Homo sapiens: one gene and its partners. The protein of the gene in region 5 interacts with the protein of the main gene of each other region in a biochemical or structural test. Each region holds a gene or a part of one and is shown on either strand. Other genes may lie near its edges.

What was found.
Region 1: the proteins of FLVCR1 (region 5) and APBA2 interact in a test that uses a peptide from one of them, tested with the Homo sapiens proteins (one large-scale study listed by IntAct).
Region 2: the proteins of FLVCR1 (region 5) and PATJ interact in a test that uses a peptide from one of them, tested with the Homo sapiens proteins (one large-scale study listed by IntAct).
Region 3: the proteins of FLVCR1 (region 5) and DLG4 interact in a test that uses a peptide from one of them, tested with the Homo sapiens proteins (one large-scale study listed by IntAct).
Region 4: the proteins of FLVCR1 (region 5) and DLG5 interact in a test that uses a peptide from one of them, tested with the Homo sapiens proteins (one large-scale study listed by IntAct).
Region 6: the proteins of FLVCR1 (region 5) and RAPGEF6 interact in a test that uses a peptide from one of them, tested with the Homo sapiens proteins (one large-scale study listed by IntAct).
Region 7: the proteins of FLVCR1 (region 5) and DLG2 interact in a test that uses a peptide from one of them, tested with the Homo sapiens proteins (one large-scale study listed by IntAct).

Annotation. Positions count from the first base shown.
Region 1 is NC_000015.10:29,102,045-29,106,087, reverse strand, and holds part of APBA2 (amyloid-beta A4 precursor protein-binding family A member 2), read right to left. Parts: intron 710-4,043; coding exon 530-709; intron 1-529. UniProt on the Homo sapiens protein: Putative function in synaptic vesicle exocytosis by binding to STXBP1, an essential component of the synaptic vesicle exocytotic machinery. May modulate processing of the amyloid-beta precursor protein (APP) and hence formation of APP-beta.
Region 2 is NC_000001.11:62,119,745-62,123,787, reverse strand, and holds part of PATJ (inaD-like protein), read right to left. Parts: intron 2,608-4,043; coding exon 2,493-2,607; intron 768-2,492; coding exon 730-767; intron 1-729.
Region 3 is NC_000017.11:7,193,628-7,197,424, forward strand, and holds part of DLG4 (disks large homolog 4), read right to left. Parts: intron 3,426-3,797; coding exon 3,130-3,425; intron 2,949-3,129; coding exon 2,846-2,948; intron 2,708-2,845; coding exon 2,593-2,707; intron 869-2,592; coding exon 692-868; intron 374-691; coding exon 337-373; intron 245-336; coding exon 217-244; intron 88-216; coding exon 40-87; intron 1-39. UniProt on the Homo sapiens protein: Postsynaptic scaffolding protein that plays a critical role in synaptogenesis and synaptic plasticity by providing a platform for the postsynaptic clustering of crucial synaptic proteins.
Region 4 is NC_000010.11:77,818,572-77,822,614, forward strand, and holds part of DLG5 (disks large homolog 5), read right to left. Parts: intron 3,531-4,043; coding exon 2,511-3,530; intron 1,448-2,510; coding exon 1,324-1,447; intron 1,117-1,323; coding exon of another isoform or gene 1,034-1,116; exon of another isoform or gene 895-1,033; coding exon 750-894; intron 1-749. UniProt on the Homo sapiens protein: Acts as a regulator of the Hippo signaling pathway.
Region 5 is NC_000001.11:212,889,087-212,893,129, reverse strand, and holds part of FLVCR1 (choline/ethanolamine transporter FLVCR1), read right to left. Parts: intron 3,985-4,043; coding exon 3,873-3,984; intron 1-3,872.
Region 6 is NC_000005.10:131,432,456-131,436,498, forward strand, and holds part of RAPGEF6 (rap guanine nucleotide exchange factor 6), read right to left. Parts: intron 3,927-4,043; coding exon of another isoform or gene 3,496-3,926; exon of another isoform or gene 3,306-3,495; intron 1,204-3,305; coding exon 975-1,203; intron 1-974. UniProt on the Homo sapiens protein: Guanine nucleotide exchange factor (GEF) for Rap1A, Rap2A and M-Ras GTPases. Does not interact with cAMP.
Region 7 is NC_000011.10:85,617,056-85,621,098, reverse strand, and holds part of DLG2 (disks large homolog 2), read left to right. Parts: intron 1-4,043. UniProt on the Homo sapiens protein: Required for perception of chronic pain through NMDA receptor signaling. Regulates surface expression of NMDA receptors in dorsal horn neurons of the spinal cord.

The DNA of each region.
Region 1 (4,043 bases), on a different chromosome or scaffold from region 5:
CACCCATTCAACAAGCAGCAGAGACCATCCACTCATCCACAGCAGACACAATCATTCAGCCATTTAACAAACAGTCCAGGTATGGGCCATCCCCAGGGAATTTGCTCCTCTGCCCATAAGAACTTTCCAAAGTCCCCTGGGGGAAGCCACTGGGACCAGCTAAGGCCTCTGCTACTGGTGGCTTCCAGCCTCCTCTGCCAGAGCCCCCAGGCTCCCTTTAGAGATGCCACATGCTTTTCAGAAATATCTCCTGGGTGCTGAGTGCTGGTTGATGATAATAGCAGCATTAAAAGGCGCATTTTCGAGGTCATTAAAGCTGACTGTAATCAGCTTCTTTGTTACAAACACCTCATTTCACACCCAAGTGCTCAGCTGGAAGGCAGGAGCGAGGTGCACATTCCGGGCCCCACTGGAGTCTGATAGGAAGGCAAGGGTGTGCGTGAGGACCCCGGGAAGGCTCGCTCTGCAGGAGCTCAGGGAGCAGAAGCTGGCAAATGTGGCCTCCCTGAGGCTGGTGGGTGTGGCTTACCTCCTTGCAGTTCTCCGAGTTTGAGAAGTGGATGAGGTCGTCGTTGTACATCTCCTGGGTGTTGATGATGTCGCTGTATTCCTTCTGGCTCAAGTCTTCGGGGTTGATGCCATTGGCTCGCAGGAACTCCTGGTAGGCCACGCTGAAGGCCTGGCCGATAGACTGGGCGATGAGCTGGGCCTGTGCAGAGGGCAGGCCAGCTGGAGACAGGCACGTGGCACAGGCTCCCCGCAGCCTCCTCAGCAGGGGGCTGCGGCAGGGCTGGGTGCAGGATGCACCCATAAGCCTTCAAGGGAGCCCTTGCTCGGGCTTAGAAGAACAAGAAAGAAACTGGGGGCCCTCCCTCATCTGATGAAGGCTGTCTCCCACCAGCACTCCACCGTGAGCGAACCCCAGTGTTGCCCTGAACCCCAAAGGGTCTACTCCTGACTGTCCCTGCCTAAGCTGTGGCACGGCCCAGATGCTCCAGGTCAAAGCTGTTTCAAAGAAAGTCTGGGACAACAATGAATTATTTACTACATGTCATATTTTTGTTGCTTTTTTTTTCTTTCGAGATGAGGTCTGGCTCTGTTGCCCAGACTGGAGTGGGAATGTAGGTGAGCACAACCACATCCAGCTAATTAAAAAAAGTTTTCTTGTAGAGATAGGGGTCTTGCCATATTGCCCAGGCTGGTCTCAAACTCCTGGACATAAGTGATCCTCCTGCCTTGGCCTCCCAAACTGTTGGCATTGCAGGTGTGAGCCACTGCACCTGACCCCATCTGTATTTCCTTTCCACTCATCTGATGCCGAAAATGGACTTTCAGTGTGTTTTCCGGGAGCATCGTGCTGCTAGTTGTCTACCCCGCATGTATTTATCGGTAGCAACAGAACCCAGTGCCCACTGGAGGCAGAGGGTGTGCCTGGCTGCTCTTCTAGGGATGTGTGGCTGTGCCAGGCCAGGCCTGCAAGACATGAGACCTGGGACTCCACACAGGCCCCATGAAGCACGTCACTTCTTTCTACTTCCGCTGAGCTGCTTCAGTGGACATCACCGACTCTGACATGGCAAAGGCCTGGACACTGAAACAGCACTCAGGGCCTGGCCGGCCGCCTGCTGGTGCGCAGACAGGAGACAGTGGGAGGTGAGGGCTGTACTGAGCTCCCGGAGCTCGCCAAGCAGGCTGGCAGCTGTGCAGCCCTGGGAGCGCGGCGGGGCTCTTGGCGGCCTTGGTGACGCCTCAGCCCACAGCGGGGCCTCCCGCCAGGCTCTGGGCTGTGTGAGCCCTCCTTATGCGCTGTCCTGCTCCTCACGTGCCTCCCCAACTGCCCTCAAGGGGGTCCTGCACGGGCGCCCCCAGCAAACTCCTACTCAACAGGATCCCAAAACAGGTGAAAACAAGGGCTTTGGCCTCAATTCCCTTCCCACTCTCCACGTGGCAGGATGTAAGAGCAGCAGATGAATGTATGCATTGGGAAAGACAAGCTGGGCCGGATTAGAAGCGCGCAGCAGGCGGCCTGCCCTCCAGCAGGCGTGGAACTGCCCTCCCTGACGGGCCCTAAGCCGTTTCCAGGACTTGCCGGTTCCCACGCCCAGCATCTCTGCCGCGCGCACAGACCCAGCTGGAGGCGCGACGCCCGGGGACCGCCAGATGGCGCCGCCGGGCTGGCCTGCGGAGTTGGCGAGCTGATGGGGCTCGGCAGGAGGGCCGGGGGCAGCGCCCGCGCAGGAGAGGGTCGGGCCTTTGGGAAGAGCGGAGGGCGGCCCCCAGGCCTCTGCTTCTGTCTCCGCCTGACGAGGCCACCTGGCTGGGAAGGACGGCCTGAGAGCCCTGGAGCCCCGGAGGCCCGGCTCCACCACCCACGGCCCTCGGACTCCACTTGGGCTCCCTCGGGCCACCGCCATTCTTCCTCCCCTTGGACGACATCCTCCGCCCCCGCGGAAGCTCCAAGCCCGGGGAGCCGGCTCCGCGGGGCTGCGCCTCCTTCCGGTGTCATCTGGGCCGCTGGTGTGCCGCCAGCCGCCGCCTCCCCGTCACTCCACGCCGGGTACCGGCTGCCTCCTGGGAGGTGTGGGGTTCAGGGGGCTCTCTCTGCGGCTGGCGCTTCAGAGAAGGGGTCGCCCTGCCGGCCCCAACTCGCAGCCAAGCCTGTGGGCGTTCACTGCTGTGAGTCCAGGAGCCCAGCCCAGGCCCCACCTCAGGGCTCAAGCGGCCTCCTGCAAGTGGGCTGTGGGCAGAGCCTGCAGGCGCTGGAGAGGTGGGGAAGAGGAGGCTGCTGTTGCTGGCAGGACCACCCTGCGGCCTCATCTACCCAATACGGCATACCCTGGCTTTAACCCTCCGCATCGGCTGCACCTGGGGGCTCTCAGTGCCCCTTGGAAACTCTCACCAGCTGACTGCCACCCTTCGCCACCGGGCCTGCTCCTGGCCTCATTCCGCCAGTACCTGTGGCCCATCCCCAAGCCAGGTCTCTCACACATCCTCGGCCCTCAGTCACACAGAAATACCCATCCAGGTTTCGAAGGGTCTCCGTGTAGCGGTGGAAGGAATGTGTGAGTGCGCTGTTGAAATGCTCTCTCCCTCCTGTAAATCTGCCATTGCGCCGAAGCACTTCAAGTGGACCCAAGTTCTTAGGAAGAAGATGACTGCGCCAGCCAAAGGTTTGAACCCTGTCTTCAGTTTCCATGCTGTATGTCAGGATCATGACAATATGGGGACCCTTCCCTATTGCCCAGGTCCCTGAGACAGCCTCAAGTCCTTATGTGAAAAAGAACGCCCTGGCCAACTGCCCCTGAAGGATAGATTTTTTTTTTTTTTTGAGACGGAGTTTCACTCTTGTCACCCAGGCTGGAGTGCAATGGCACGATCTCAGCTCACTGCAATCTCCGCCTCCCAGGTTCAAGCAATTCTCCTGCCTCAGCCTCCCACGTAGCTGGGATTACAGGCACGCACCACCAAGCTTGGCTAATTTTTTTGTATCTTTAGTAGAGACTAGGGTTTCGCAATGTTGGCCAGGCTGGTTTTGAACTCCTGACCTCAGGTGATCCACGCACCTCAGCCTCCCAAAAGTGTTGGGATTACAGGCATGAACTACCGTGCCCAGCCATAGATCATATTTTAAAATTTCACTCTGGCAACAGCCACAAAACTGGCTCACCAGCAGCGCCCCCTGCTGGTCTGTGAGTAAGATCAGCCTCCAGGAAGGACAGTTCCTCTCTGAGCTCCCCTCTTGGCCCTGCTGCTCCTTCCTCAGCCCCTCTGTCCCCCTCCAGGCTAAAAACAACACTCTTCTCCAGCCAAGGAGGGAGCCAAAGGGCTTGTGATCTTTTCCTGAGTCTTTGGTATCTTATACTTCAGAATCACTTTTTACTTCCTCTGAAGACCACACGCAAAGGCAGAACTAAGCCTCATGTGCAGATGTGCTTTCTTTATACAGCATGCCAGGGCCATGCGAAAATTTGCATTTTAATAACAAAAGTTATGCAAAGATTAACTTCATTTTTAGTAGAGAAAATGTTTTGTAAAGGGATTTC
Region 2 (4,043 bases), about 150 Mb from region 5:
ATAGCACATTTGGCCGGGCACGGTGCCTCACGCCTGTAATCCCAGCACTTTGGGAGGCCAAGGCAGGTGGATCACGAGGTCAGGAGATCGAGACCATCCTGGCTAACACGGTGAAAACCCGTCTCTACTAAAAATACAAAAAATTAGCTGGGCGTGGTGGCAGGCGCCTGTAGTCCCAGGTACTCGGGATGCTGAGGCAGGAGAATGGCATGAACCCAGGAGGTGGAGCTTGCAGTGAGCCGAGATCGCACCAGTGCACTCTAGCCTGGGTGACAGAGCAAGACTCTGTCTCAAAAAAAAAAAAAAAAAAAAAAAAAAGAAACTTATAGCACATTCATAAGATGGAGTACTATGAAATCGATAAAAATCATACTATATGCTCTCAAAAAATACTTATTTAGTATGTGCCACATGATACCATTTTTGTTTTATAAAACTTTACATGTACAGGTTAAAAGACTAAGATTGAAAAAATAAATAAATAAAAATAAAACTTACACATAGCACAGAATATAGTGGATGAGATTTGCCAAAAAATTCATAGAGGTCATCTCTGTGCTCTACTGTACTTTTCTAAGTCTATTTATTGATGTTATTTAGACCATATTTTTATCTCAGTAACTTGAAAGAGCACACTCACAATCCAATAAACTGTATTGGGGAAAATGTACATTTAGTGCAAATCCAACACAAACCAGAAAAATACATACAGCAAAATGACTGACTTACCCTGTTTATCTCAACAGTCCTTGGTTCCATATCTGTGCCTATAAAGAAGCAACACAATTAACTTTTTAATATTAAAAAATAATATATTTAGCATATAATATTGCCCCATGAAAAATGGTTTCATTTTCTAGGTCTTTCAAGAGAAGACACTAAAGCAAGCAGGTATTGTACCCTTCCTCAGCATCCAAGCTGGTAGCCAAGTCACCAGGGGCCATGTCCTCTTTTTTTTTTTTTTGACACAGAGTCTCGCTTTGTCACCCAGGCTGGAGTGCAGTGGCACCATCTCAGCTCACTGCAACCTCTGCCTCCCAGATTCAAGCAATTCTTCTGCCTCTGCCTCCAAATAGCTGGGATTACAGGTGCCTGCCACCACGCCCGGCTAATTTTTGTATTTTTAGTAGAGACGGGGTTTCACCATGTTGGCCAGGCTGGTCTCAAACTCTCGACCTCAAGTGATCCACCTGCCTCGGCCTCCCAAAGTGTTGGGATTACAGGCGTGAGCCACCGTGCCCGGCCTGCTGTGTCCTCTATTTTAAAGAAGTGCTCTCTGTTTGAGATCAATGTGGCCATAACCATTTGGTCTGACAAAAGTGGATGGGCTATATAGCAGCAGCTGCCTGGAACATGGTGAGTAAATGCTTGGAGGATGACTCATTTTTGTGTGTGTGTGTGGTTTTTTTTTTTTTTTTTTTTTTAGATGGAGTCTCACTCTGTCGCCCAGGCTGGAGTGCAGTGGTCCGATCTTAGCTCACTGCCATCTCTGCCTCTTGGGTTCAAGCGATTCTCCTGCCTCAGCCTCCCAAGTAGCTGGGATTATAGGCATGTGCCACCATGCCCGGCTAATTTTTGTATTTTTAGTACAGGCGAGGTTTCTCCATGTTGGCCAGGCTGCTCTCAAACTCCTGACCTCAGGTGATCCGCCTGCCTTGGCCTCCCAAAGTGCTAAGATTACAGGCATGAGCCACCGGGCCCGGCTGAGTCATTTGTGTTTCATTGTACATTTTTTTCTACCTTAATCAAAGATAACCCTCCATTCAACAAAAGACTTAAAAGGACCCCTTGTCCCACCCTGCCCCCAAGGATATACACACTTTTTTTTTTCTTTTAACTGGCCCAATTTTCCCATAGAAGGTATACACACTTCTGACCTTTCTCCAGTGACCTGTAATTTATTAATTTTCTCTTTGTAAGTAATTTTATTTTACCATGCACTCCAGCTTTCTGCTTTTCTGTTTTTCAGGTGCTTTGTGTTGTGCCACTGAAGGAATTTCTTTTTTTTTTTCTGGAGACGGAGTCTTGCTCTGTCACCCAGGCTGGAGTGCAGTGGCACGATCTTGGCTCACTGCAACCTCCACCACCCCCGCCAGTTTCAAGCAATTCTCCTGCCTCAGCCTCCTGAGTAGCTGGGACTACAGGCGTATGCCACCACGCCCGGCTAATTTTTTTTTGTATTTTAATAGAGACGGGGTTTCACGGGGTTAGCCAGGATGGTCTCGATCTCCTGACCTCAGGTGATCCGCCCGCCACAGCCGTCCCAAAGTGCTGGGATTACAGGTGTGAGCCACCATGCCTGGCCACCACTGAAGGAATCTCTATGGCTTTCCTACCTTCAGAACATGCCTTTCAGAAAGCTCAGCTTATGTGGCCAAGCTCAAAAAATTAAAAAACATTTATATTAAAGAAGACTGGTTTTTAAAAAACACATTTTTTTTTTTTAATTTGGGTAACAGGATAGTTTTGCTCTGGGTGTGTCCGTGTAATACCTGAATTTTTCTGGGAAGGATCTGAAACTCTTTTTGTGCCAACCAGGTTTTGCAGGCCAGTGATGACAGGAGCGAAGGAGGGATGACAGCTGCTGTGTGCACTCTGCTGACTACCCTGAAAGAAAGACCCAGGGGTCACCTGTGTGCAGACACTGACTTGACCCCCTAAATGCATACTTATCCATTAGTGTGCCAATTACTGATGTCACCATAACCATCTAACAGAAAATCGTGAGGAGGCCAGGAAAGAAAACAAAAATCACCCACACTATTCTCTTACTACCTCAACCCAATCCCATTTAGACATTTCCTCCATTGCTTTCTCCATTATGTGTGCTTTTGTATATGGTTTCAATCACCAAGGTGGAGACCATAGAATCATTTCAGCTGTTCTTGCTCCACATAAAATCAAAACCATTTTCCTAGGTTGCCACATAGTGTTTATGTATATATAGTCAGCTAATGGGCACTATGTTTCATTTGGGGTTACAGTCAACTTTATTACCCAAAATGTATTATGTATTTTGCTAAAACAAGTATAATAAGACCTTGATTAGCAGAAACCTGCCAAAATAGAACCCTCAATTGTGGGGAAAAAAGCACCAAATCTGAAGGGAAAAAGACTTGTTTTAGGGATATATAACATTTTTTTCTCAAAGATTTTCCTAGAATCAGTAATAATTTAGTCCAATCTGCTAGATCTCCATTACCTGTCCCTTTATTCATTTAAATGAATATGTGAGGTTAATACTGTGTAGTCTTTTAAGGCTAGTGGCTGTTCAACAAAAACTGTATACATAGTGAAGGGCCTTTCTTATGTAGACGAAAACATTGCAAATAATGAATATTTTTTTCTACCAAATTATTCTGCATCAAAATTTTAAGCTAAGCCTAAGATCACTGTTATCAGTTCATAAATTATAATTTGGTCCATTTTCTTAACTCTATGATGAAAGTTGTTTAATATTTTAATTCCTAAAATATGAAAACCTTCAAATATATAGAAAAGCTGAAAGAATTATACAATAGACATCCATATAAATAGCACCTAGATTTCACAATGAGTATTTTGCTATATTTCCTTTATCACATAGCCATTTATCTATTCATCACTCATCTTTTTTTAAAAAATTCATTTCAAAGTAAGTTGTAGATCTCAGTATACTTCATAGTGGCTATATACATTTAAAGGAGTGTTTTTATACTTTTCCTTAAAGGATATGATTTAAGTAAATGGTACTATAATAGATAACTAATCAGAACTGAGGAAGTACAGTATATTATAACTTTTGCCTTTAAAAAATTTCAGAAAGGTGTGTTTGCCAAGACCTTTATTGCATTGTATTGTAATTTTTGAGGAGTCTCCCTCTGTCACCCAGGCTGTAGTGCAGTGGTGCAATTTCAGCTCACTGCAACCTCCGCCTCCCAGGTTCAAGTGATTCTGTTGCCTCAGCCTCCTGAGTAGCTGGGGTTACAGGAGCCCACCACTATGCCCAGCTAATTTTTGTATTTTTAGTAGAGACAGGGTTTCACCAGGCTCTTTGGCCAGGC
Region 3 (3,797 bases), on a different chromosome or scaffold from region 5:
GCAGCAAGTGCTGGGGCCAAGGCAGGGGCCAGGGCTCACCTTCCATCTGCGTCACTGTCTCGTAGCTCAGAACCGAGTCTTCTCGACCTGGTGGGAGGTGGGGCATCTGCAAGGGGCTCTGAAACAGGGGACCTGGAGCCCTGTCTCCCCCTTGAGGATATCAAAAGCAACTCAGTGCTCCTCTCACCCACATCTTCCCGAACTAACCCTACCTACCCTGCGATCCAGAGCTGGAGCCCCAGTCCTAAGAAGAAAAAGCAGGCCACGGGGTTAGTTATGAGCTCAGCTCCATGAGCCCTCACACTTCCACCCAGGCTCACACCCTCCTCCACCTACCTTGGCCTTTAACCTTGACCACTCTCGTCGCTCAACCCTGTGGGATACATGGAGGGATACGCGGGTAGGGGAATGCCTACCCCCTGCCACCCCCATGCTCTGAGCCAGCTGACAACCCCTTCTCCATACTCTGGGCCAGCTGACACCCCTTCTCCTGCAGCCCTGGACACTGTGCTCCTCAATAAGGAGTTGTCCTTCCCAAAGGCTCATGGGAGCCACGGACCCCAGGAGGGCCCAACAGACAAACCCCTAGGAGTTCAGAGGGCAAACCCATCCCCTGTTGGCTGCCCACCCCGGGGGACCTTGGGAACTTCAGTGCCTGTGGCAGGAAGGCTACAGAGCCCAGGAGCCTCACCGCCGTTTGCTGGGGATGAACCCAATGTCGTCGGTCTCACTGTCAGAGTGGACCCGCCGTGCCTGCCACCACTCCTCATCACTAGCATCGATGACATGCAGCACATCCCCAAAGCGGAAGCTCAGGGCCTGGCTCAGGAAGCCGCAGTCCTTGGTCTTGTCGTAATCAAACAGGGCCCTGGAGGGCAAGTGGCTATCGGTCAGAGCCCAGCTGAGGACTCCAGGAAGGATGCCCCAGTCACCCAAAGACCCGGCCCAGAGGTCTGCAGATGGCACTCCCATGGGAGCTATGGATGCCGAGGAACCCAAAACTGTGTGGGGACCAAACGCTGACTATAACTCATAACAACTATTAGCCATCACTCAGTCCACACTGAGCACAGTTTCCAGAGGCAGGGCTTGAACTTGACCCTCTCAAGAAAGCAGTTTGGGCCAGGCGTGGTGGCTCCCACCTGGAATCCCAGCTGACTTTGGGAGGCCAAGGCGGGCGGATCACAAGGTCAGGAGATTGAGACCATGGTGAAACCCCGTCTCTACTAAAAATACAAAATATTAGCCGGGCACGGTGGCGGGTGCCTGTATTCCCAGCTTCTCGGGAGGCTGAGGCAGGAAAATGGCATGAACCCAGGAGGCGGAGCTTGCAGTGAGCAGAGATCACGCCACTGCACTCCAGCCTGGGCAACGGAGCGAGACACCGTCTCAAAAAAAAAAAAAAAGAAAAAGAAAAAGAAAAACAGAAAGCAGTGTGCAGTACACACGCACATCATAAAGTCACAGGGGTAACCCTGAATCTGCCCAAATTCATAAGAAAAAGAAAATGTCCCGTGTTTCCAAATAATGGTTACCCTTACCAGTATCAAATTTCTATCAGTAAGTCACAACCCCTGGGGTCAGAACCAGGGAAGTAATGAAGACACAGAAGAAAGCAATGGGCCTGGAGAGGAGGGAGGAGACCCCGGGCCCCCTGGAAGTGTGACAACCAGATGACATTCCGCCTGGGAGCCACTACACAACCTCTGTGGTCACTGGGAGTCAGAACAACCTTGGGGACCAACCGGACCCGAGCAGGGAGGAAGGGCAGAGCAAGGGCTCAGGTGGGAGCCAGTGTCTGGGTGGCTGGTGATGCCATCCAACAAGAGGGAAACTGCTGGCACAGCAAGATGGAACCCAGGCCCACAGCAGGATGATGAGCTCAGCGTGGGACATGTTGAGTGTGGGACGCCTGTGGGACATCCCAGTGGAGATGGCCAGAAAGCCAATGGCCAGAAGTGCAGGTCTTGACCTCTGGAAATAGGTCAGCCAGGGCCAGCACCTCCGAGAGACATCTGCAGAGCGCAGCGGCAGACGAGGCCATGCAAGCCACAGGGCCAGACAGGGACAGAAGTGGAGGGGTGACCCCCGGGGGCGGGAGAGAGGTGTGTTTTGGCAGAAACCTAAGCCACAAAAAGAGTCAATGGAGACGAGCCCTAAGAGGGGAGCAAAATGCCGCTGGAGAGACGGGGGCAGGCACCACAGAGCTGCGGCCCACGTCTCCGGGACTGCCCACAGGGACGTGAAGGCTGGGGCAACACTCCAAATACCCTAGAGGACCCTGCTTCACCAAGCATTAACCTTCGAGACGCCAAATTGTGGGGTGGCCTGGGAGTCCCGGGGAAGTGCTGGGATGACCAGGGGCTAGAAGGCAATTGGGATACTTGGGGCAGAGGCTATTTTCCCATCGACAGGGAGTATTTCAAATGTTAACCTGTGCAGCCAAGCCCATGAACCCTGGCTGCGCCTCAGGCCTGGGGTGGGGAGCTAGAGCAGGCAGGGTGGAGAAGAGGAGCGGCTGAGGCCCGGGCCAGGCACAGAGTGCCCAGGAACGCAGAGGGGCTGAGGAGTCCAGCCCGGGAAGCCTCTGACCTGATGTAGAAACCCCTTTTGGGGTTGCTCCGCAGGGACGCAGTCCCTGAGCCCAGGCTGCTGTTCATGAGCTGTTCCCGAAGGTCGTGGATCTTGGCCTCGAATCGGCTGTACTCTGAGGAAGGACAGGGAGGTTTCTGAGCTCTGTCCCCATCCTACTGTCACCCCTGTCCTCCCCTACTGAAGCCATCAGCTGAGGAAGAGTTCTAAGGGCCATTTCAGCTCACAAGACAAGGAACTTCCGGCCTGGTACCTTCTGGTTTATACTGAGCGATGATCGTGACCGTCTGACCCGCATTCTTCAGGGCAATGGCAGCCTGCTCATGGCTGGCATTTCGGAGGTCCACACCGTTGACCTAGAGAGAGGACGACAGGCTGTGTCACCAGAGACAGGAGGCAGCACTTCTGGGTCCAGGTGGAGCAGGGAGTGGTCCCGCAAGAGGACTCGGCTGCAGCCCATCCAGGCCCCTCCCCAAGAGCTCTGCGCTCTGCCCTGTGGGGAGGGGGTGGTGCAGGTAGGGGCAGGCCTTCCCTCACCGACAGGATCTGGTCCCCCTTCCGCAGCTCCCCACTGAGGTCTGCAGGGCCCCCGGCCAGGATAAAGGAGATGAAGATGCCTTCACCGTCCTCGCCACCCACGATGTTGAAGCCCAGGCCCGTGGAGCCCCGGTGGATCACAATTCGCCTCGGTTCTCGGGGAATGTCTTCCTCCCCGAGCAGGTCCTTGGCCACTGGAGAGTAGCGCCGAGGGGAAGTGGGGGTCATGGCTGTGGGGTAGTCGGTGCCCAGGTAGCTGCTGTGACTGATCTCATTGTCCAGGTGCTGGGAATAAGCTGAGGAAGACAGGGCAGAGATGAAAGTGCCTGGAGGGAAACAGCACCCGCCACCCAACCTTCTCCCCAGGGTGCCAGAAGAGCCAAAGTTAGGTGGAAGGGAAGATATTCTGCCAGAGATGCCAGGGTGGGGTGGTAAGGGGATATCAGATCACAGTGACATCAGGGGTCAGGAATTTATAGGTGACATCAGAGGCTGGTTGTCCTAGGGGATAAAGGATTTGAACGTTATATGTCCTCAGTATGCCAGGGATGGGGAAGTCAAAGGGAGCATTAATATTACGCTTTGGGGGTTTTCTCTGGGTTCCTGTGTCACTCGAATCTCTTAATCCATAAAATTCTTCTCCCTCTTTTTTCCCCCCACCTCTCTGC
Region 4 (4,043 bases), on a different chromosome or scaffold from region 5:
GCACCGATGGCCCTTCTCCCTGGAGGCTCCAGCCCAGGTCTTGTGCAGCTGGCCTCTTTCATCCTTCTGGTCACAGCAGCATCCCCTCTGCCACAGGGCCCTTCCTGACCACCCACTCTAACTTGCCACCCTCTTCCAAGTTACAGCCCAGCCTGTCACCCTGTTTGACTGCCTTCATAGCCTCTTGGCACCATCTGATATCACTTCGTTCATTTTTTTTTTTTGTCTGCCTCCCACATTTGAAAAACCACACGACATGAGCTAGAAGCTAATTTGTTTAGTTCAGCAATGTATCCTCTTATAATTAGGATAGACCAAGGCATGTAGTAGGTGCTCAAAAAATATCTGTCAAATGAATGAATAAGAGTGGCTTGGAGCCAGCCCACCCTCTTATGAAGTACCAGTTTCCTCATCTTCAAGACAGAAACAGTAATAGGACTTAGCCCATGAGGTTGCTGTTGATTCGGTGAAATGATATTCATAAAGGTCTGAGCACAGTGGCTGGGACATAAGCACTCAAACATCAGCTGCTATCACTATCGTGTCCTTCCAGTACCTTTTGAAACCTTGTGCTGATGAATTCAGAAAGCAGCCCTAAGGCTCCCTTTCCCTGTGCTGCTCTAGCCAGTCCCCTCCCAGGCAGGCAAGGAAGCTTCTCCACCAATGAGCCTCTTTATGCACTCATGGTTCCATGTCCAGGCAGGCTTGGGCAGCTGGAGTACAGAGAAGCGTAGGGTGCCTTCACATACCTGGGATGCAAACCCTGGGGGCCAGCATCTCGGGCCGCAGGTGGAGAGCTGCAGGGGCCGACCCTGTGACTGCGCACAGTGTAGATGGGGTTCCGCAGGATGGAGCTCACAGTGGTGCTGGGGGTCAAACTCCGGGGAACAGTGCCTAGAAATGGGCTTGGTGAGAAAAGACGCCCCAAAGGACCCAGCCAGCCCAGGACTTACACAAGCCTTTCCCCTGTATCCCAGGACGCAGCCGCAGTCTTTTGGGAAAAGGACTTGGGAGATGAGTTTTAACCACCAATTCACAATGTGGCTGTGGCTCCTGGCCTGTCTCCATTTGTAAAAAGGGGGGAAGTCTCTTTCATGCTTCCTATTTCCCAGGTTGCTATGGGGAGAAAGCATGTTGACAAGCTAAGACATGTCATGGCTATAAGACAAACCATCCCAGACAGGACAGCATTTCCCAGTTCTCTGGACCTCAGGGCTGAAAACACATGGCAGCTCTCTGAAATGCTGCCTCCCCTCTCCCTGGAGACTAGGCATCCCGAGTTTACACCGACCCTCAGCCCCAGCCCCTGGCTGGCTGACTCACCCACAGACGGCCTGCTAGGGTATAGCGGGGGGTTGCTGTGCCGGCTGGAATGCCCAGGCGAGTAAGGTGCCCACTCCTGGAGCTCCGGGGAGAGTTCTCCACTGGCCGGGACACACTTCTGTTCCTGCAGATGCAAGGGCAAGAGTGTCTGCTAGAAAGAGTGGAGTGTGGCCAGGCGCAGTGGCTCACACCTATAATCCCAGCACTCTGGGAGGCCGAGGCGGGCAGATCACCTAAGGTCAGGAGTTCAAGACCACCCTGGCCAACATGGCGAAATCCCGTCTCTACCAAAAATACAAAAATTAGCTGGGCATGGTAGTGGGTGCCTGTAATCCCAGCTACTTGGGAGGCTGAGGCAGGAGAATCGCTTGAACTCGGGAGGCAGAAGTTGCAGTGAGCCAAGACTGCACCACTGTACTCCAGCCTGGGTGACAGAGTGAGACTCCATCTTAGGGGAAAAAAAAAAAAAAAACCAAACAGTGGAACGCTTGAGCAGCTCTGCAAGCCAGTTTCTGCCCCCCAGGAACCAGCTCCTCCCACTGGGGCACAGGAAGGGACATGAATGGGAACGCTGCCCATTCATGTTGCCTTACACATCTTCAAGGAAGCAGCTTTACTTCAGAAGAAAACCACAGAGAATGAATCTTTCACAGAGATCACGTAAAAGGTGAGAATGCACAAGTGCATCAGGCACGTACAACTCTGCCCGATGTGGAGGGCTGTGCGAAGCTCTTTGTCCCCAGTGAGCAGTGTGGACTGGTGCCTGAGATGCTTTCCACAGTCCCCAGCAATCTCACCCTTCTGGAAACTATGACAGCACACGCAATCAGGCCGTCCCGCTGCCCACTCAGCCTCACACGTGCCACCTCATCTCCCTAGCCCTTCAAGGCAAGTCTATGCCCTAGGTTTTATTGTGTAAGTTCAAAAGCTTCTTATTAAAAAAGCAAACCAAATGCTATGCCCAATAAAGTGTTCCCCTCTTGTGTCACACTCCCACTACCATGCACTTCCACGCCACTTACCTACCTCCTAGCTGGGCCACTTCCCACTTGAGTCCAACAGCAAAGGCAAAGGCACCAGGCTAAACAGGGGCCTGGGACACTGGTGCAGGGCCACTTAGCAGCCCTCCTTCGGCCAACTGCCCCTCTCTAGGCCTCCCCTCCCCACACCCTGGGGCTCAGCTATACCTCCAGGAACTGAGCAGGAATCACTACTGGAGCAAGCTTCGGCCGAAAACTGGGAGCAGATTTTGGCCGGCGACGCTTCTGCCCCAGCTCATCCACCTTCTGGGAGGTGAGGTCCTCATCACAGGATTTCTTGGCCGGCAGGTGGGAGGAGTCCCCATCTCCTTCAGGGTAGTAGCTGGAAGCAATGCGGACCCTGGCCTTGCGAGGGGGTGATGCGTGCATGGGCTCCCCGGGGTCCACGTCAGGGGGCAGGGCGCTCGGGGGACTAGTGGATGGGGAGCTGCCCACCAGAGTGGCTTCTGACTCGGAGCTAGTCTCCAGCCTGTGCTGGAACTTAATGGAGTCGCTCCTTCTGGGAGGTTTTGGGGGTGTCAGAGGCCCCGCCCTCTTGGAGGGCTGGGGAGAGTGAGCAGGCCCAGGACCTGGAAGCAGGTAGTCTATTTTGGGGGGTGTCTGGGGGCGTTTGAAAGTGTTAGGGTCAAAGATGGACTTTCTTTGCTTTGGCTTTTTATAAACAGAGAGCTTCTCAGGCACTGCCGTGGAGCTGAGCATGGCCTTGGGCCAGGTCCCGCCGCTGTTGGAGCCTTCAGAGTCTGCCTTGTCCAGGGAGGCCTCCCCAACCCCACAGGGGCCCACCTCGGTCTCAAAGGGCAGCAGTGGCCGCCGGCCACGCACGTCCACCAGCCCAAAGCCACGGTCCCCAGAGGCATCTGAGCGGAAGGAGCTCAGGCTACGCTCAGAGGCACTGGGACAGGCCTGGGGGCAGACCTGCAAGGGTCCCCCAGGGAATGGCTTATGCAGAAAGGAGCTGCTGCCTCCTGGGGGGCCTGGCTCCTTCCTGTCTTCCAGCCTGTCCGTGTAGAAGATGTCTGTCTGCGTGGAGTTATTGTGCTGTATCAAGTTCCGTTTGTTATGAGCCTGGACCTCCGGGCCATGGGCTCGAAAACTCAGCATCTTATCAGAGTCTTTGATATTTTCAAAAATGTTCTGGCCACTCCACGAGGAGCTCTGAGGGAATACCTAGGCAGGGATTGCAGAGGAGTGAGAGAGAGAGTGAGATGGCAGGACTTGGAGCTGCCACTGAAAACCATCCCCAGAGGTAAAGCAATGGTCAGGAATGGGCCACCTGCCCCTTAAAAAAGAGACAGATAGACAGAGATGCACACACACATGAACACATATGCTTCTCCCTAATGGATAAGTTTTCTCATGGCTCTGGTCACTCTGAACTCAAAGAAGAGTCAAAGTTTTCTTAACTTTGAACACTTTCTGAAATTATCTGGGCCGGGCACAGTGGCTCATGCCTGTAATCCCAGCGCTTTGGTAGGCTGAGGCAGGCGGGTCACGAGGTCAGGAGTTCGAGACCAGCCTGACCGATATGGTGAAACCCCATCTATACAAAAATTACAAAAATAAGCCAGGCACGGTGGCATGCACCTGTAGTCCCAGCTACTTGGGAGGCTGAGGCAGGAGAATCGCTTGAACCCGGAGGTGGAGGTTGCAGTGAACTAAGATCACGCCACTGCACTCCAG
Region 5 (4,043 bases):
GAGCCGAGATCACGCCACTGCACTCCAGCCTGGGCAACACAGCAACATTCCGGCACCCCCCCCCAAAAAAAAAGAAGCAACCCTTCATTTCTTCAGGTTTTACCATAAGATGCAGCAATTCAGTTACCTCTTCATATTCCACTTCTAATTCCAGTTCTCTTGTTATTCCCACCACATCTGCAGCTATTTCCTCCACTGAAGTCTTGAACACCTCAAAATCATCCATGAGAATGGGAATTAACTTCCTCCAAACTCCTGTTAATGTTGATAGTTTGACCTCCTCCCATGAATCAAGAATGTTCTTAATGGCATCTAGGATGGTGCATCCTTTCCAGAAAGTTCTCAATTTACTTTGCTCAGATCCAAGAGAGGAATAATTATTTCTGGCAGCTACAGCCTTTTGAAGTGTATTTCTTAAAGAATAAGACTTGAAAGTTGAAATTACTCCTTGATCCACGGGCTGCAGAAGGGATGCTGTGTTTCCAGACATGAAAGCAACATTGATCTCCTCGTACATCTTCATCAGAGCTCTTGGGTAAACAGGTGAATTGGTCAATGAGCAGTAGTATTTTGAAAGGAATGTTTTTCTCAGTAGCAGGCTTCAACAATGGGTTTAAAATATTCAGCAAACCATGCTACTAACAGATGTACTATCAACTACGGGGTTCAGGTTCATTGTTCCATTGTTAGAGCTTAGGCAGAGAAAATTTGGCCTAATTCTTAAGGGCCCTAGGATTTTCAGAATGGTCAACAAGCATTAGTTTCAATGTGAAGTCACCAGCTGCATCAACCCCTCACAAGAGAATGAGCTTGTCCTTTGAAGCCAGACATTGATTCCTCCTCTCTAGCTATGGCAGTCCTAGATGGCATCTTCTTCCAGTATAAGCCTGTTTCATCTACATGGAAAATTTGTGGTTTATTGTAGCCACCTTCATCAATCATCTTAGCTAGATCTTCTGGATAACCTACTTCAGCATCTACATCAGCACTTGCTGCTTCACCTTGCACTTTTATGTTATGAAGACAACTTCTTTCCTTACCTCATGAACTGACCTCTGCTAGTTTCCAGCTTTTCTTCCGCAACTTTCTCACCTCTTTCAACGTTCACAGAATTGGACAGTTAGGGCCTTGCTCTAGATTAGGCTTTGGCTTACGGCGATGTTGTGGCTGGTATGATCTTCTAACAAGACCACTCAAACTTTCTCCATATCAATAGGCTGTTTTATCATTTGTGTTCACTGGAGTAGCATTCTTAATTTCCCTTAAGAATTTTTCCTTTGCATTAGCAACTTGGCTAATTGTTTGGTGCAAAAGGACTAGCTTTTGGCCTATCTGGGCTTTTGACATGACTTGTTCACTAAGCTTAATCATTTTTAGCTTCTGATTTAAGAGGAGAGATTTACTACTCTTCCTTTTGCTTAAACACCTGGAGGCCACTGTAGGGGTAATAATTTGGGGGTATTAATCAGGGCCCTGATTTCAATATTGTTGTGCCTCAGGGAATACCATTTGAGATGGTAAAAGCATCAATGTAAAACTAATTTTAAAGATCTATTTTCACTTCTTAATTTTCTAGACTTGATTTGTTTGAATTAGTATTCATGAATCTCTTGTAAAAGTAATTTGAAGGAGGATTACAAAACTGCTCCCTTCTTTGGTATAACAATAATACTGTTTTTTTTTTTGAGACGGAGTCTCACTTTGTCACCCAGGCTGGAGTGGTGGTGTGATCTTCACCACTCACTGCAACCTCCGCCTCCCGGATTCAAGCAATTCTTCTGCCTCAGCCTCCCAGATTCAAGCAATTCTTCTGCCTCAGCCTCCCAAGTAGCTGAGATTACAGGTGTGTGCCCATAAAACTGGCTAAAGTTTTTTGTATTTTTAGTAGAGACACGGTTTCACTATGTTGGTCAGGCTGGTCTTGAACTCCTGACATCAAATGATCCACCTGTATCAGCCTCCCAAAGTGCTAGGAATACAAGTATGAGCCACCACGTCCAGCCAATAGTAATAATCTTAGATAAGATATAGTACTTGCCTAGGAATTAAGAACCAACATGGAATTACTTATGAAAGAACAATAGTTAAAGCAGTTAATGTATTACATATTTCACAGTTTTGTATGTTTTATTTTACTAACTGGACAGGGGGAAAAACTCCCTGTGATAAGATGTTTTTCTTTGAGGAAACAGAGTGCATTCACTTTCTTTTAGCTTCGTGAATGAATGCTCAGGTTCCTATCATTCATACAATTGAGTGAGCGACCTTAGGTAGTTGTGTATATCCAAAATGTCTATCACTGGTGAGATTTCATATTGAAGGTTTCACAAAGAATGATCAGGTATTCCACAAACAGTAGAAGAAATTCTGATTCACATCCTTCTGATAGATTCTCCAACTAAGTTATAACCAGATCCTCCAACTAAGTTATAACCAGATCAACGAAGCACAACCTCCCTTGGTATCTGCGGGGGATTGATTCCAAGACCCCACCTCAGATACCAAAATCCACGAATGCTCAAGGCCTTTATATGAAATGGTGTAGTATAAGCTTGTTCAACCTGTGGTCTGCAGCCCATATGTGGCCCAGGACAGTTTTGAATGTGGCCTAACACAAACTCACAAATTTTTAAAAAACATTATGAGATTTTTTGCAATTTTTTTTTTTTAGCTCATTAGCTATCATTAGTATTAGAGTATTTCATGTGTGGCCCAAGATATTTCTTGTTCCAATGTGGTCCAGAGAAGCCAAAAGATTGGACGCCCCTGGGAAGTATTTACATATAACGTACACACATCCTCCTATGTACTTAAACCATCTCTAGATTACTAATACCTAATACAATGTAAATAGCTGTTATACTATAATGTTTAGGGAATGATGACATTTTAAAAGTATGCACCTGGAAAAAGTTCTGCTTCCAAATCTATTGTACACCCATGTGCATGGGCAAACTATGGATAAAAATTCTCTGACATTCTCTTTCTCTGGAGATTGAGCACTATTTTCTTTCCTGCCCATGTCTATGATGACTATACCTAAGAAGTATAAGCACTAGCTAAGGATTCCACATACTATTTCCACCACTACCACTTGACTGCTTACCATCTCTACCACATTATAACAATAGTAACACATGTTAGGCACGTCCCAGGTGCCAGACACTAGGAACTTTTCATGAACCATTTCAATTAATCCTCACAGTAACCCTATAAAGCAGGCTTTAACACTCTATTATATAAATAAGGAAAGGAGGATTTGAGAGGTTAAGCAACGGGTCTAAAGTCACACTCCCACTGAGCAACAGAATCGGAATTTGAGGCCAGGTCTTCCCAACTCCAGGTCTTTACTACTCTTTTTTTTTTTTTTTTTTGAGACAGAGTCTCGCTGTTGCCCAAGCTAGAGTGCACTCGTGTGATCTTGGCTCACTGCAACCTCTGTCTCCTGGGTTCAAGCAATTTTCCTGCCTCAGCCTCCCAAGTAGCTGGGGCTACACGTGTGCGCCACCACAACTGGCTAATTTTAGTAGAGACGGGGTTTCGCCATGTTGGCTAGGCTGGTCTCAAACTCCTCACCTCAAGTAATCTGCCCGCCTCTGCCTCCCAAAGTGCTGGGATTACAGGCATGAGCCAACACACCCAGCCTTTACTACTCTTATTATAACAGTTTTGCTTGCTATGCAGAGTAACTGTATTGAATTTGAAATCTGCAAAATGAAGTAAGAGATTCATGTCTTTAGAAGAAAACAAATAATGTCCTGCTTTTTATCTCATTTTTTTCCCCTTGAGTTCTGTCAAGCTATTGAGAAGCAATATATATGAAAATTAACACATGACACAAGTCCTTTTGCCAGGCAAACGCCCTAATTTACCTGTTAATATGATGCCTATAAACATCCAGACACAGAGAAAAATGTTCCCTGCCTTAGGACCATAGTCTGATGTGAGCTTTCCTTGAGCCAATGTGAACAAAATTCCAAATATCTAAAATACAATAAGAAAAATCATTCGTTATTAAGTTAAATTATTTAAAGCAAGTATAA
Region 6 (4,043 bases), on a different chromosome or scaffold from region 5:
AAAATACAAAAAATTAGCCGGGCGTGGTGGTGGGCGCCTGTAGTCCCAGCTACTCGGGAGGCTGAGGCAGGAGAACAGCGTGAACCCAGGAGGCGGAGCTTGCAGTGAGCCGAGATCGCGCCAGTGCACTCCAGCCTGGGCAACAAGAGTGACACTCTGTCTCACAGAGCGAGACTCCGCCTTAAAAAAAAAAAAAAGTTTTACTGGGACACAGTCATGCCATTTGTTTATGTGTTGTCTATGGCTATTCTGGTGTAATAGCAGAGTAGTTGTGACAGAGGCCTTATGGCCTGTGAAGTCTAAAATGTTTACTATGTAACTTTTATAGAAAACATTTGCTGACCTCTGGTGTAGAGATCCTAGTTTAGAAATCTTTATAAATGTGGTAATAATTTATCTTAAATTTTTCATATTAAAGTAGACCAGATTTCACAATATTTATCAGTTAGAATAAACTTTCTCAAAGATTTCCACGTTGCTTGATTCTAAATAGAAATTTAGAGTTGATTTTTTTTTTTAATTAACCTTTGCTAGGTGATTATTCTTACTCCCCAAATTACACTTTCAGAGGACAGAGATCAAGGGCTAGTCCTACTCTCCCAACCTGTCTACAATGTGCACAGCACTCGAGGCACTTTCCAAAACACAACCTTTTTGATTAACCTATAGCCAGAATTTCAAAAATTATCTCCCCTATATAAGTAGCAGATGCACTTTGAGTTCTGACTGGAAAGATACATAATGATAAAAAGTTACTTGAATTTAGTAACACTTTAAAAATGAACACCCATACATCTTTCAACATAGTGCTTATTTACATATTCAGAATAGAGAATATGTGCTTGGCCCACATATTCTTTTATGGATAACTCTGCAATTACCCCATGGGAGGTCCAAGGTCAAGGTGGGGAGCACTCCTTGCAGTGGCCACTTGGCTTGGGTTTTGTGTTATGAACACAGACAATGATGCTTACCCAGGGCCATGTTGACTATGATCTCCTATCCCTGAAGCGTGCTCTGTCTTTTCCAATGCCCCAGTGGATTCAGGGACTGCCAGGGCCTGAGAGGAACACCGTTCATCCTGTAGAGCTGCAGACATGGAGTCAACAGAACAATTGCTCACGATGCTGGACCGTGAAGAAATCTCACTATGGCTGGAGTCAGACAAGTTGTCAGATTTAGCTGATGGAATAAGTGTGTAACCTGAACAAGAAAAGAGCACTGATCAAACTACAAAAAAAGGGAACATATGGTGGGGGTAGTAGGGGAAAGGATGAAAAAAAAAAACCCCACAAAAATAACAGAAGACAAAGTAGAAGCAATTTTAGTTTCCATCTATGTAGATATAATGGTGCCAATTTTCTCCACACATTCCCCTACATAACCATTTGCCTACTATCCACACCACACCAATACAACTACACATTCAAGAAAAAGACAGTCAAAGTCCAGTGTTACTCAGAAAACTAGTTTAAAGGTATATCTTTCTCAGGCTCTCCCACAGCTATAATCATTTAATAAAATAAGAAGATTACAAATATTAATAAGTACATGTCTTTAGGGTTTCTCAACTTCTTTTTAACCCAACGCTCCTTCCTTTGATTAATATGAATATTTCTTGACCTGATCTGAATCCCAAATACCATCTTGAAGTAAGGGTAGGGGTGGGAGTCCAGGACTCAAGGGAAAGAACTACATTTTTGCTTTATCAAACTATATATACTTACCCCATATATTCTGCATATCCCACCTAAGAAGTCTTGTCTTGAGTTGAGAGTCACTGTTTTAGATTATTTTTATTTTTTAGACACAGGGTCCTGCTCTGTTGCCAGGCTATAGTGCAATGGCACGATCATAGCTCACTGCAGCTTCGAACTCCTGGGCTCAAGTGGTCCTCTTGCCTCAGCCCCAAGTAGCTGGGACTACGGTCTGCACCACCACACCCAGTTATTTTTAAACTTTTTGCAGAAATGAGGTCTCATTATGTTGCCGAGGCTGGTCTTCAACTCCTGGCCTCAAGCGATCCTCCCGCCTCAGCCTACCAAATTGCTGGGATTACAGGTATGAGCCACCATGCCCAGCCTGTTTCAGTTTTTTAAATTGTTTTAGGTTTAAACTTAGTGTCATACTTAGTTTCCTTTTTCTTCACCAACCTTGCAGAATATTAAACAGCTGAGTGGATACATGTTTAATAATGTGTTATAGAAAAAAACAGCATCTACATGTTCTATGTTGTTCTGTGACTTACTGCACAGCAGACAACTAGAGAGATGTTCTTCTGTATTCTAGGGACGCACTGAGGTGAAGGACCCAAAAACAAATCTGCAACAGAATGGCTAATGTACATAATAATCTATTTTGATAACTGGAAGAAACCAAATTTTTGTTTAGAAATAAAAGAAAAAGAAAATGCCCTAGTAATCCCAACAAGGGACGGGTCTCAAAGAAGTAAAAAATATCTTCTTGCTCACAGAGGAAAGTAGGGTTTAGTAGATATGTGACCTTTGGACCAATACCTAGAAATGTCATTAGGAAGAATTACAGGCTTTGGGTATGTTACTGGAATTCTCAGGGCCTCATCTTCATGCAGAAAGAGGATGACAACATCCTTAGTTCCAAGTCTTTCTCTGTTTATGGATCTTGGAGTTATTCACATATAACTCAAGTCATTTAAGGAATAATTTGTTGCACAGTAATCTTATTAAGTCGTTTCGTTAACTATTTCAAAGAGAAAAAGGCCTAGAAAATGTGTGATTTATATTTGGCCTACGTGGACAGGAACAGGGTAAGCCAAGACAAGCCAGTCTTCTGACGTCTATCATACATCTCTGAACTTGGGATCACTGCTATTTGTCAATGTCCATGAGCTGATTAGTCAATTTTTAAGAGGACCAAGAAAGTGGATGTAATAAGTAAATTAAAAATAAATAAAAACCTTCTTCTTGAAAAGAAAAAGTCATTGCTCTACACAATAATCTTGCTTCATTGTTTAAAAAATAATTTCATTCTTATGTCTATTTGATCAGTATTTCTCAAATATAATAATACTAAGAACCACCTGGCAAGCCAATTAAAATAAACATTCCAGATCCCATTTCTGGCAATTCAAGTTTATGAAGTCTGGGGTGGGACACAGTAATTGCATTTTTTAACAAGTTTCCCAGATGATTCTGATATTGCTATGTTAGACTAGTCCCTTCTCCCCCAATCAAAGATACGTAAAAAGTAGAAGATAAAAAAGCCTCCTCTACATATTTCACTCACAGATCCAGCTAACAGTAGGAAATAAAGTCAACTACAGAAAACAAGAGTATAAAATTTACTAACTCAATACATCAGTAAAATAACTTATGTACAAATGAGGCATTTTCAAGTGTTTATAAATAGTATTTTACTAAGTTGTCTGCCTAAGCTTTGACAAATGGTTTAATTTAAGCCATGTATACATTAATAACTGAAAACAAACTTAACACTAAAATTAAATAAGGAACTTCATCAGAGTGTCTTCCTCCTTTTAGACTTGAATCGCGTATAGAAGCAGTTTAAAGTGTTACTGTTGCCTTGGCTATTTGAATTGAAGATGGCACTCCCTTTCTCATCTTTGATGTTGCTTCCAACATCCTTCACTTTCTCACAGCTTTCTGTAGCTTGATTGTGATCTGTGTCCTCTTTTTGGCTGTTGACTAGTCTCTCCCTTGAAAGCATTCTTTCCCTAAGTCTTCTAAACGGGGATGTCATTCTTTTTCTGGTTGTGTTCTCACAACTTGTCCTGTCTCTATTCTCCTCAGTGGCCTTCTCAGTACTGTCTGTTCTTTTGGCTGTGCTCCTGGTAATCTGAAGGATTTTCTTTTGCAAGTAAGCCCCACCTATTCCGGGGCAGCTCTGGCCACTGATCTTGCTGCTGTGATCAGATATGATACTGCCAACTGGAGGGAGAGATGCAAAAACCCTGACATGGTCAATCACAATTAGCCTTGTTTACATAATATTTCACTATTTAAAAATTCTAACATCTTGATAATATCTGAAAAATTGAAATCTAG
Region 7 (4,043 bases), on a different chromosome or scaffold from region 5:
ATAATTCTTAAAGACCCTAGGATTTTTGGAAGGGTAAATGAGCATTGGCTTCAACGTAAAGTCACCAGCTACATTCACCCATTAGCCTCTAAGAAGCGTCAGCCTGTCCTTTGAAACTTTGAAATGAGGCATTGATTTCTCTCTAGCATTTTCTTCTGATGTAAGGCTATTTTGTCTGAATTGAAAATCTGTTGTTTAGCCATTTTCATCAATTATCTCAGCTAGATCTTCTTGATAACTTGCTGTAGCTTCTTCATCAGCACTTGCTGCTTCACCTTGCACTTTTATGTTGTAAAGATGACTTCTTTCCTTTCACCTCATGAACCAACCTTTGCTGGCTTCCAGCTTTCTTCTGTGGCTTCCTCACCTCTCTCAGCCTATATAGAATTGAAGAGAGTTAGGGCCTTGCTCTGGATTAGACTTTGGTTTGAGGGGAATTACAGCTGGTTTGATCTTCTGTTCAGATCACTAAAACTTTCCCTATATCAACAGTAAGCGTGTCTCTCTTATTATTCGTGTGTTCACTGAAGTGGCCCTTTTAATTTCCTTCAAGAGTTTTTCCTTTGCATTCACAACTTGGCTATTTGGTGCAAGAGGGCTGCCTAGCTTTTGGCTTATCTCAGCTTTCAACATAACTTCCTCACTAAGCTTAATCATTTTCTAGCTTTGAGTGTGAGAAATGTGTAACGTTTCCTTTCACTTGAACACTGAGAGGCCATGGTAGAGTTATTAATTGGCCTAACTTTAATATTGTTGTGTCTCCAGGAATAGGGGGACCTGAGGAGAGGGAGAGAGATGGGGCAATGACCAGTTGGTAGAGGAGTCAGATAACACACAACATTTACAGATTAAGTTTGCTGTCTTATGTGGGTATGATTTGTGGCGCCCCAAAACAATTACAATGAACATCAAAGATCACTGATTACAGATCACTGTAACAAATAAAAGACTAATGAAAAAGTTTGAAATATTGTGAGAATTACCAAAATGTGACGCAGAGACATGAAGTGAATATATCCTGTGGAAAATTGCCAGTGATAGACTTGTTTGACACAGGGTTGTCACAAACTTAATTTGTGAAAAACGTGTTGTCTGCAAAGTGCAGTAAAGCAAAGTGCAATAAAATGAGCTATGCCTGTACCTGACTTCATTGAGTGGCCTTGTGTGGTTATTTTATTCCTTTTGCAAGCATTTTACCAAATTTGTATTTGAATTTTCATGTTTGCCATACCAGTAATATATGGAGAGCTTGTCTTTTTTTTTTTGAGACGGAGTTTTGCTCTGTTGCCCAGGCTGGAGTGCAGTTGCGCAATCTCGGTTCACTGCAACCTCCACCTCCTGGGTTCAGGCGATTCTCCTGGCTCAGCCTGCCGAGTAGCTGGGATTACAGGCGCCTGCCACTGTGCCTGGCTAATTTTTTCATTTTTGGAAGAGAGGGGATTTCACCATGTTGGGCAGGCTGACCTCAAACTCCTGACCTCAGGTGATTCATCTGCCTCCACCTCTGAAAGTGCTGGGATTACAGGCATGAGCCACTGCATATGGCTGCACATGTTTTTTCTGTTTTCCAAAACTTCAAGTTTTTTTTTTAATCTCTTCACAGCCATAAAACTCAAAAGAATTAAGCACTGAATCATCCTAGAGAAAGATGGGAAAACACAGTTTTCAAACTTTTGCATTTTCTGTAAGTCAAAGTAAAATAGACAATTTACTAAAGTTTTTTTTTTTAATTTAAAATTCCCCAATTAAAAAAATTAGCTGGGCTTGTTGGCATGTGCCTATAGTCCCAGTTACTTGGGAGGCTGAGACTGGAGGATTGCCTGAGCCCAGGAGTTTGAGACTGCAGTGAGCTGTGATTGTGCCACTGAACTCCAGCCTGGGTATCCCATATCTTTTTTATTTTAAAAGAAATTCCCCGTAGGGACAATTTTGACCTTGGATAAGCTATAGACTCTTGATATTGTAAAATATTAATTAATCCAGGAGGCATAAATAGAATGAATTCCAGAATGAGAAATAGAAGAATACTTTTTGTGTTTAACTACTGATTAGGAGTTTGCTATGAAGCAACTTAGTGAGGAAGACGTAGAGATAAAATGATCTGTTAATTGATTTTATTTTACATATCTATTGGGAGAGTACAAAGCATATGCTAATGACTTGATACTAGAAAATGTGTGAACTTCTGGGTTTTTGGAAATCTGCTCAAGTGTTTTTATTTATGATAGAATATTTGATTTCTCCCTTAGGCCTATTATTGTTTACTTTTGTGGGTAGAAGAATCTAGTCAGTGAGGTATGCACAAAACATTGGATTTTACTTATTTATTTTTAAAAAACTTCAACTTTTTCTTAGATTCAGTGAGTACATGTGCTGATTTGTTACATGAGTATATTGTGTGATGCTGAGGTTTTGGATATGAATGATTCTGTCACCTAGGTATTGAGCATAGTACTCAATAGGTGGTTTTTTAGCCCTTGCCCCACTAGTCCCTTGCGTAGTGTCTATTGTTCCTGTCTTTATGTCCATGTATACCCAATTCTTAGTTCCCACTTGTAAGAACATGCGGTATTTTGTTTTCTGTTTCTGTGTTAATTTGCCTGGGATAAACATTGGGTTTTTAAAATGTTGGATTAAGGCATTCTGTTCATTCATGCCTTTGTCAATAAGTAAATTTCTCACTGTTCTGTAAAATACATTTACTGAACTATACGAATACTATACTTTCTTAAATATATATTCTCCTTATATGCTTATTTCTTAATACTATGTTACCATGTCAGTGATTACAAAATATTTTTTAGTATAAGGGAGAGATTTTTTTTTTGATTGGGATAAGGGAATGTGTTCTCCAGCTACAATTCTTGCCCAGGAATTTATGGCAGTCAAGACACAAGTATTTCTATATCCTCAATGTAGGTTGCTTTGTCAGCAAAGGATCATGAGTTTTATCCAGTCTCTTCTGTCCAGTTAGTCATTCTGAATTCCAACTAATAAGCTTTCCGCATGGGTTCAATTTTTAGTAAGTTTTCAAAGCTATTTCAAGAATTATGGCCAAATCACCTTCATTATGAAACGATTCTCCTGACCTCCTTTATTTTAGGATTTAAGATCAAGAGGAATGGTATAGTATAATAAAGTAGAAAATCCTGTGAAAATGAATTATTAAATTTAAACTTTCAAAGATTATGGGTAAGATTTTTGTAACCCATTTCTTCTGGTAACACCATTTTGCTAGCCACTGAGGCCCTAATTTAGGATACAATTTTGAAGCTTCTATCAGGGGCTTATCATTTTGAAGGACTGTGACATCTTTATCATTAAAAGCATGGTAATACTTGGAATAAACCTATTAAGTTCTGTTCTATTTAAACATCTCTCATAGGTAATAAACAAGCTAAAATTCTTTTAAAAGGTAAACTGGTGTATATATGGTGTAAACTGGTGTATATATTTAAGGCAATGACTCTACTTTCATTTATTTATTCAATCATTTATCCATTCAACAAAGGTGTATTATGAGTGCCTGCTATGTGCCAGGCATAGTGCCAGATGCATGTTTGAAGTAGCAAATGATATTCAATCTCTGCCTGTATGAATCTTAAAATATATTAGGAAGACAGATGCAAAAACAGGCAATTTCAATGCTGTGTGGTGAGGTTAACGCTCTTTGTCAAGAAAACAGACAAGGAACACTCAATCCCACTAGGGAAGATGTAATATTTAAGATGAGATACAGAAGATGAATAGAAGTTTACCAGACAATGTGGGAAATGGCAAGAGGCTGTTTCAGATCATTATTTATTTTTCTTGTTTTTTGGCCTTGAACTATATAATCACATCCTGTGTTATCATCATCATCGATAGCAGTGACATGGTGGAAAAAACCTAGAACAGTAGTCAGAAGATTTGGCTACTAAAAGAAGGGACAGGATCAGGTAATCCGTGAGCTGGACTTGGTCTGTAAATTTAGGTATGTTAGAAGTATCCATTTATTTTCTGTAATTCACCTTTACTCTTAGTAACTGAGTAACAGACAAAAT